Linked DNA regions of Homo sapiens: region 1 is linked to region 2. Evidence: fine-mapped expression QTL. Tissue or cell type: whole blood. Region 2 holds a variant in brackets; the other region holds the start of a gene. All regions are shown on one strand. Distances are between the middles of the regions.

Region 1 (4,098 bases), 85 kb before region 2:
AATCTCTTTGGACCATAAATTTGGCCTTTAAACTGTCAGATTTCTTTTCCTGTGGACTATCTTTTTTCCTCAACTAAACAGCATGCTTCTTGTTTTAGATCTCTCCCAGTTCCTACATAATAGATGCTTCAAGCATTTGGTTGACCGAAGTGATTGCATGAGCTTTCTCAGTCTTGAGGAGAGAATTGTGGCAAGGCTGCCACCTGTTTCCATGACAAAGTGTTAAAAGTGACTCAACCTAAAATCCAGTTGGGTTGCCCTTAGTAAGAGAGGGACTCTATTTACAGGGCCCGGTCACTTCCCACTTGACTCAGCCGAGCTTGCACAGGCCGTGCACACACTGGCTGCTCCTATCTTGGACTTGTGGAAAGAAAGAAGAACATGAGAAGTACAGGAATCTGTGGCTTTGGAACTTCACAGAGACCTTTCCCAGGGGCTACAATTAGAGAATTGTCCTTTGGATTCACCCTTTTTGCTAAAGAACTGCAGTGAAAGTTCTGGAAGATGTTTGCTCAAAGTGCTACCCCCATCCTCAAACCTTCCTAAGTGCTAAGTGGACATTGTACCACCCACTGGAAATGCAGCTCCCATTTTTGAAGCCTTACAGTGAGGTTGGGAAAACAAGACTCACACACTCCAAGTAAGTTCCAACATATCAGATGGTGAGACAGATGGCAAGTTCTACTAAAGCTCCAGAAAGGAAGGAGTTGCTTAGGACTTGGCTGGTCCAAGAAAGCTTTATAGAATCTGAAATGGACCTTGGATAAAGGGTACAAGTTGACCAACTAGAAAAGAAAATGTGTTGGAGGGTAGTGAATAAACTCGTTTTAGCTGGAGCAGGTTTCATGTGGTCACATAAAGTTGGAAAAGGTTCTGGAAGGCCCTGAATTCTGGATTTACAGTGTGTATCTTAATCAATAAGCATTGGAAGCCATTAAATATTTTTGAGCAGGTGTGTGACTACATACGGGATTTTTTTTTTTTTTTTTTTTTTTTTGAGACAAGGTCTTGCTCTGTCACCCAGGCTGGAGTGCAGTGGCATGATTGTGGCTCACTACAACCTTACACTCCTCCCACCTCAGCCTCCCGAGTAAGTTAGGACTACAGGTGTGTGTCACCATGCCTGGCTTTTTATGAAGACCATCTGGTGGTAGTGGACAGGATGCGATGGGAAGCTTGGAGTTGGGGAGGCTAATTAGGAAAAGTCCTGTAGAAACTATTGAATATCCAACTGAGGTGAGAACAGAGAGAAGGGAAACATAGTTCTCAATTCTGTGAGAACCTCTGTCTTGGAACAGTACTTGTGTGATATTCATTTGATTTTAAAATGTCCAGGAACACTTTGATCCTTCACTTTTCCCATAGTCTCCTGACCATTTTTCCCAGAAGAGATAATGGAAAAGAAAACTGCAGTATAACTTGCTGAGTGACCTGGGGCAGTTATTCTGCCCCTTGATACTTTATCTAATTTAAATCAGATAATAATGCTTTACCTGCCTGAAGGCAGAGGACTGGAATACTGATTTTTTTTTTTTTGAGACAGGGTCTTGCTGTGTTGCCCAGGCTGGAGTGCACTGACGCAATCACGGCTCACTGCAGCCTTGACCTCCAGAGATCAAGAGATCCTCTTGCCTCAGCCTCTCAAAGTGCTGGGACGACAGCCGTGAGCCACTGTGCCTGGCTTATCTTGCTGATCTTTTCAACTCTAAGAGTGAATACTTTTCTTTTCTTTTTAAAATTCTTTTTCGGAACCCTCAAACACCTACTCTCTTCAAACAGCCATTCCAGCCCAGTCTGGGGAAAACTGCTTGCTGGGGTTCACCGTGGGGGCTGTACGACTTCCCCAGCGCCTCTCGGAGATGTGGTTCAGGCTGGGAAGAAAGGTCTTCAAATCTCAACTGGAAAACGAAGCTATGTCTGCGTTAAGCGTCCAGTGGCTCCCGTGATATTTCACGCCTACTGGTTTCGTCAAGCAGGGAGTCGGGTCGTTGCTGTTGGCGACGAAAGGCTCTGAGGCTAAAGCCTTGGGCGTCGCCCAAACCAGCCTCTACTTCGCTTCTGCCTAAAACCACACCGTTAGGCGCCTGGGTGGTGACTCGGTTTCCCTCGGTCACCCAGAGTCCGCATCATCACTCGCCCCCTCCTCATCCCACCCGTTCCCAGTCGGGGGAGGCACCAGGCACCAGTTCTCTGGCCCCACCTCTCGCTCCCCTAGGGAAGCCGAATGGCCTCTTCGCGTCCCTGGCTTCTCGGGGGCGGAGCCCACCTGTGCCCGGGGCGGGGGCGGGGGCGGGGCCGGGGGCGGGCCAGGTTCCGCGAGCAGGAGAGCCCAGAGCCCGGAGCCCGGTCCGGGGCTGGCGGGGGCGCGGGCGGAGGCAGGCGGGCGGGCGCCGGGGAAGCCTCCTTCTGGGCAGCGAGTGAGGGCGGGCGCGCAGGGAGGGAGGGCGGCAGCGAGCCTGCGACGGGAGAGGCGTGGGGAGGAGAGCCCGGCGCGGAACACACGCGCGGAGGAGGAGCCGGGCTCGGCTCCCGGAGAGACCTGCTGGGCGCCCGCGCAGCCCGGAGACCCCTCGCGCCCGGAGCATGAGCCCGAGCCCCGCCGGAGAGCGGCCGGGAGAGACGGCCTCGGCGCAGCCCTGAGACGCTGGGCCGGGACGCGGGGCGCCCTGGGCGCGGGGCCCGGCCGGGGGGCGGCGGCTCGGGGGGTTGGAGCCCGCGCTGGCGGCGGCCGCCTCGGCGCAGCGCCATGGGGAGCCCCCGGGCCGCGCGGCCCCCGCTGCTCCTGCGCCCGGTGAAGCTGCTGCGGAGGCGCTTCCGGCTGCTGCTGGCGCTCGCCGTGGTGTCTGTGGGGCTCTGGACTCTGTATCTGGAACTGGTGGCGTCGGCCCAGGTCGGCGGGAACCCCCTGAACCGGAGTAAGTAGCACCCAGGGGAGGCGAAGGGCGCGGGGGTGGGCGGCGGCGGCGGCTCCTGCGTTGGGGGGACCCGCCTCTCATCCCATCCTCAGACCCGATTTCCCACCCATTTCTCCCTCAGGTGCCCGGCGTCGCCCCGCGCGTACTCGGGGAGAGCTGCGGGCGGGGGAAGCCGCGGGGCCGAGCGCAGAATTCCCGAGCCCGGGCCTGCCCGCCGGCCACGTGGGTCCGGGGCACCCTGGGGGCTCCTCGCGTCTCCCCTCGGAGAGCGACCCGGAGAGAGGCTCCCCGCCCGTCCCGCCGAGACGCTGGCGGAGACCGGGCCCCTCCAGCCGCTCCGGGCTTGCGGTTCCCGGGGAGGAGGTCCGTGGGGTCCACGCGCGAGCTAGGGATTCGGGTGCGGGATGCCCTCGGCCGTCCACACCCAGGCGCGCGCTCCAGTCCGCGCAGCCCAAACTTTGCCCACCGCCTTCTGTTTGGCTCACTCCGTTTCCTCTCCTGCTGCATCTTCTAGGGGGGTTCTTTTTTACCATACCTCGGAGAGTCCCGTCTCTTCCCCGCTTCCCATACGTCGCTCCTCTCCCAGCCTCCGTCCTCGGCTCTTTGAATCTCCCACCTCCTCGCTGCGCCCTCTTTCTCCTGTTCGGGCCGCCCCTTCTGCCACTTTTCTGAACCCTGAGCAAATCTACCAAACTCCCCAGTTTAAGGAGATGATGGACAGCACAGTGGACCGGGCAGCAGGTAGATTCCTACTTCTGTTTTTAACTTAGCCAAAGCCACTTAATATTTCCGTGCCTCAGTTTCCTCCTAGGAAAACAGGAGAGCGTGGTCTCTTTGCCTTTTTACATCAATAGGTATGGCTGTGCGAGGTGGTTTTCAACGTACTGTGGATGGGCCTAACAAAGTAAAACTGACAGTGACAGGGGCCGTAAAAGATCCTGTAATAGTTGGGAAAAGAAATGGAGAAACTCCCGTTACTACCAGGTGCCCAACGCAAGCCCGGGGAGCCGAGGTTCAAAGTTCTGGCACGTGGCCTCCCATGCCTTCACTTTCCTCCCGCTTTGGGGAAACTCGGACAGAGTGGCTGAGCAAGCAGCTGAGAAGATACTCTGACTCTGACCTGTCGTCGTGTCAGCTTCTCTACCCAGAGTTGGGTGTGGTGCTGTGCCTTCTCTTGTGGCCA
Region 2 (4,098 bases):
CTATTCTGTCACAACCATTGTCCCCGTTGCCTGGGGAATGAACACCAGCCCCCTTCCTGCATGGGAGGTCCAGGGAGAGTATGTGTGTGTGTGTGCATGGCCAGAGCAGACCTTGTCCCCAAGGCCAGGCCATGGGGTGAACATCAGCACCAGGTTCCTGAAAGAAGTGCTGGGTGCTGGGCTGGGAATGGGATAGAGTGGGCCGGACCCGCACAGTGAGAGGAGCACCGGCCCCTTTCTGCCCAGCCTCCCGGAGCTGAGGAGCTGGGATGGGCATGGGGTGGTCACGCTCCCGGAGCTGAGGAGCTGGGGCAGGCATGGGGTGCTCATCCTCCTGGAGCTGAGGAGCTGGGGCGGGCATGGGGTGCTCATCTTCCCGGAGCTGAGGAGCTGGGGCGGGCATGGGGTGCTCATCTTCCTGGAGCTGAGGAGCTGGGACGGGCATGGGGTGCTCATCCTCCTGGAACTGAGGAGCTGGGACGGGCATGGGGTGCTCATCCTCCTGGAACTGAGGAGCTGGGATGGGCATGGGGTGCTCATCCTCCTGGAGCTGAGGAGCTGGGGCGGGCATGGGGTGCTCATCTTCCCGGAGCTGAGGAGCTGGGGCGGGCATGGGGTGCTCATCTTCCTGGAGCTGAGGAGCTGGGACGGGCATGGGGTGCTCATCCTCCTGGAACTGAGGAGCTGGGATGGGCATGGGGTGCTCATCCTCCCAGAGCTGAGGAGCTGGGGCAGGCATGGGGTGCTCATCTTCCCGGAGCTGAGGAGCTGGGATGGGCATGGGGTGCTCATCTTCCCGGAGCTGAGGAGCTGGGGCGGGCATGGGGTGCTCATCTTCCTGGAGCTGAGGAGCTGGGACGGGCATGGGGTGCTCATCCTCCTGGAGCTGAGGATCTGGGGCGGGTGTGGGATGCTCATCCTCCTGGAGCTGAGGAGCTGGGGCGGGCATGGGGTGCTCATCTTCCCGGAGCTGAGGAGCTGGGGCGGGCATGGGGTGCTCATCTTCCCAGAGCTGAGGAGCTGGGGCGGGCATGGGGTGCTCATCTTCCTGGAGCTGAGGAGCTGGGACGGGCATGGGGTGCTCATCCTCCTGGAGCTGAGGATCTGGGGCGGGTGTGGGATGCTCATCCTCCTGGAGCTGAGGCTCTGGGGAGGGCATGGGGTGCTCATCCTCCTGGAGCTGAGGGTCTGGGGCGGGCATGGGATGCTCATCCCCCTGGAGCTGAGGATCTGGGGCGGGCATGGGGTGCTCACGCTCACTCACCACTGGCGTCTCCGCCCTGCAGTTCCGGGGCCGTGCCAACCTGCATGTGTTTGAAGACTGGTGTGGCAGCTCTATCCAGCAGCTCAGGAGGAACCTGCATTTCCCACTGTACCCCCATGTGAGTGCCTGAGGGCTGCCTTGCCCACCTCCCTCCACACCTGCCTCCTCTGCCCACTTCTGTCTCTCATCTTTCCTTACATCTTTTCTGGTCCATATTTTCTCCTTTATCTCTTGAGCTCTCTTTTTGTCTGCCCATAATAGTTCCCTTGTTTCCTTCCTAGGGATCCTTTCAATTTCATCCCCTGCATCATTTCAGTTTCAGGCTCTCTGGCTCACAATATAGTGTACCCAGGGCCACCATGTACAGTTGTGCTGGTTGTGCACTGTACAAGGTCTCCTGGACAAAGAGGCAAATGGGAACTGAAATTGAGCCTGCACTCCACTCACAAAGCCACAGCCCTGGTCCCTCCTGTCATAGTCCCCTCCTGGTCTTCCCGCCAA[T/C]CCTGGCGGGAAGTTTCCTTTTCCCTCTTCTGGGTAACTGTTTCCTTCCCCTTTCTTGGCATAGATTCGCACAACCCTGAGGAAGCTTGCTGTGTCCCCCAAATGGACCAACTATGGCCTCCGCATCTTTGGCTACCTGCACCCCTTTACTGATGGTGAGGCCAGCCCCAAAACCCCATCCTTCTTCCTGCTCTAGAGTTCTGCATCGGACCCAAAGAACATAAGATAAGGTTATAGGTAGACTGGACTAACTTCCTGTTAGTCCACCCTCAGGAAGAGAGGGGAAATTGAGTCATATTGCGGTCTTGTCCAACTCCCACAGGCTGCTGCTTTGCTCCCTGGTTTGCAGCCTGGAACCAGCTCATCTCTCCATATAAGTCTTCTCCATCTTCACACTGTCTCCCAGGATGTAGAAACCCCCACTTTACAGAGAGGGAAGCCACAGCATCAAGCACTGAAGGGAATTTAATCGCTAAGACACTCACAAAAGCCTCCAGCTTTTATGCTGATGCCCTCCTTGCCCTCATCTGGAAACTCTCCCCGCTGCCCAGGGAAAATCCAGTTTGCCATTGCTGCAGATGACAACGCGGAGTTCTGGCTGAGCCTCGATGACCAGGTCTCAGGCCTCCAGCTGCTGGCCAGTGTGGGCAAGGTAAGGCCAGCTCAACCCCGGTCCCTCCCATCTGCTCCTGGAGCCTGTTCATTGAGTCCTCCAGCAGCTGCTCATTACTGTTAGCATCTCTGGTGTGACAGCGGGGAAGAAGGGGTGGAAAAGAAGTCTCCTCCCTCACCCCTACCCCTCTACAAAGGGATAAACTGAGGATGGGGAGGAGTGAGGAGTGGGGAGGAGCGAGGTGTGGGGAGGAGCGAGGTGTGGGGAGGAGTGAGGAATGGGGAGGAGCGAGGTGTGGGGAGGAGCGAGGAGTGGGGAGGAGTGAGGAGTGGGGAGGTGAGAGGAGTGGGGAGGTAAGAGGAATGGGGAGGAGCGAGGAGTGGGGAGGAGCGAGGAGTGGGGAGGTGAGGAGTGGGGAGGAGCGAGGAGTGGGGAGGTGAGAGGAGTGGGGAGGTGCGAGGAGTGGGGAGGTGAGGAGTGGGGAGGTGCGAGGAGTGGGGAGGTGAGAGGAGTGGGGAGGTGCGAGGAGTGGGGAGGTGAGAGGAGTGGGGAGATGAGAGGAGTGGGGAGGTGAGAGGAGTGGGGAAGAGTGAGGAATGGGGAGGAGTGAGGAGTAGGGAGGAGTGAAGAGTGGGGAGGAGTTGGGAGTTAGGGTGGGGAGTTGTGGGAAAGTGGGGAGTGAGAAGGAGGGAAAAGCGGGAAGGAGTCGGGAAGAGGGAAGAGGAGGGGGGAATGAGAAAGAGGGAGCAGTGAGAAGTGGGCAGGGGGTGTGAGAGGAGGGAGGGGGGTGTGGGAGGAGGGGAGTGGGGAGGTGGGGAGAGGAGTAAGGAGTGGGGAGGTGGGAGGAGTGGGGCAGAGAGTGCGGACAGGGAGGAGTGGGGAGCGAGTCTGAGGCTGGGGAAGGACCACAGCGATTCGGCTTGGGACACCCAGCGCAGCATCTCTGGGGCCCTCTGGCCTTGGCCGGGTGCTGACTCGCGCTGCAGGTCATCCGGCTGCTCCGGGCTCCTGGCAAGGCGGGCTGCCTCCTGCGTGGGCAACGCTCACTCCTTCACTCCCTTCTGTTTTCTCTCCTACCTCTCTCACCTTCATTCCGCCCGTCTTCCTCCCTTTTTCTCTCACTTCTTGGTTCTCCTTCCTGGTCTCGCACTCACCGCCTCGCGTGCTTCCTGTTTTCTCTGTTCCTCCCTCCTCTTCTCTCTTCCACACCTCTAGACTGGAAAGGAGTGGACCGCCCCGGGAGAGTTTGGGAAATTTCGGAGCCAAATTTCCAAGCCGGTGAGGTGAGTGAGGGTCAGGACAGGCGCTGTGGGCGCCTCGGTGCCTCGGTGGAGCCCGGCTGCGCCCCTGTCCGCCAGCCCAGCTGCCGACTCCAGAGCTTCCGTGTGTCCGGCACCCACACGCTCCCGGCAACCGGGTCTTTGGCTCAGAAGCCGCGAGCCCATCCGTCCTCGTTTCACAGATGGGGAAACTGAGGCCCAGAAGGCCGTGACTTATTGCAGGTCACGCAGCTCTTTAGTGACACGCGGGACTGGAAAATAGGTCTCCTTCCTCCCAGTCCTTGCCCTCCCCCGTTTCTCCACACCCACAACAGCCTGGACCCCGGACCGAGGTCCCCCTCGGTCGTCTGGGGACACGAGTCCCTTTCCCTTGCGGGGAGGGAGCGTAGCGCGGCCTCAGAGCGCCCCCTGGTGGCCCACGCGCGCTCACGCAGGCGGGA

The links. PIP is the estimated chance that this variant, and not a neighbour inherited with it, causes the effect.
Region 1: it holds the start of B4GALNT3, and the variant in region 2 is fine-mapped to the expression of B4GALNT3 in whole blood (TOPMed, PIP above 0.99). The same link has a PIP of 0.9 or more in neutrophils.

The regions. Positions count from the first base shown.
Region 1 is chr12:457,631-461,728 of GRCh38, forward strand. It overlaps B4GALNT3 (beta-1,4-N-acetyl-galactosaminyltransferase 3), which reads left to right and starts at 2,309. Exons shown (of 20, transcript NM_173593.4): 1 at 2,309-2,915. The coding sequence starts at 2,747. RefSeq lists an enhancer at 1,477-2,460.
Region 2 is chr12:543,053-547,150 of GRCh38, forward strand. It overlaps B4GALNT3 (beta-1,4-N-acetyl-galactosaminyltransferase 3), which reads left to right. Exons shown (of 20, transcript NM_173593.4): 4 at 1,287-1,382; 5 at 1,830-1,920; 6 at 2,317-2,417; 7 at 3,594-3,661. Among named protein-coding and RNA genes, the nearest start is that of B4GALNT3, 85 kb to the left of the region's middle. RefSeq lists enhancers at 1-332, 3,231-3,765. The variant T/C (reference allele first, on the strand shown) is at 1,766.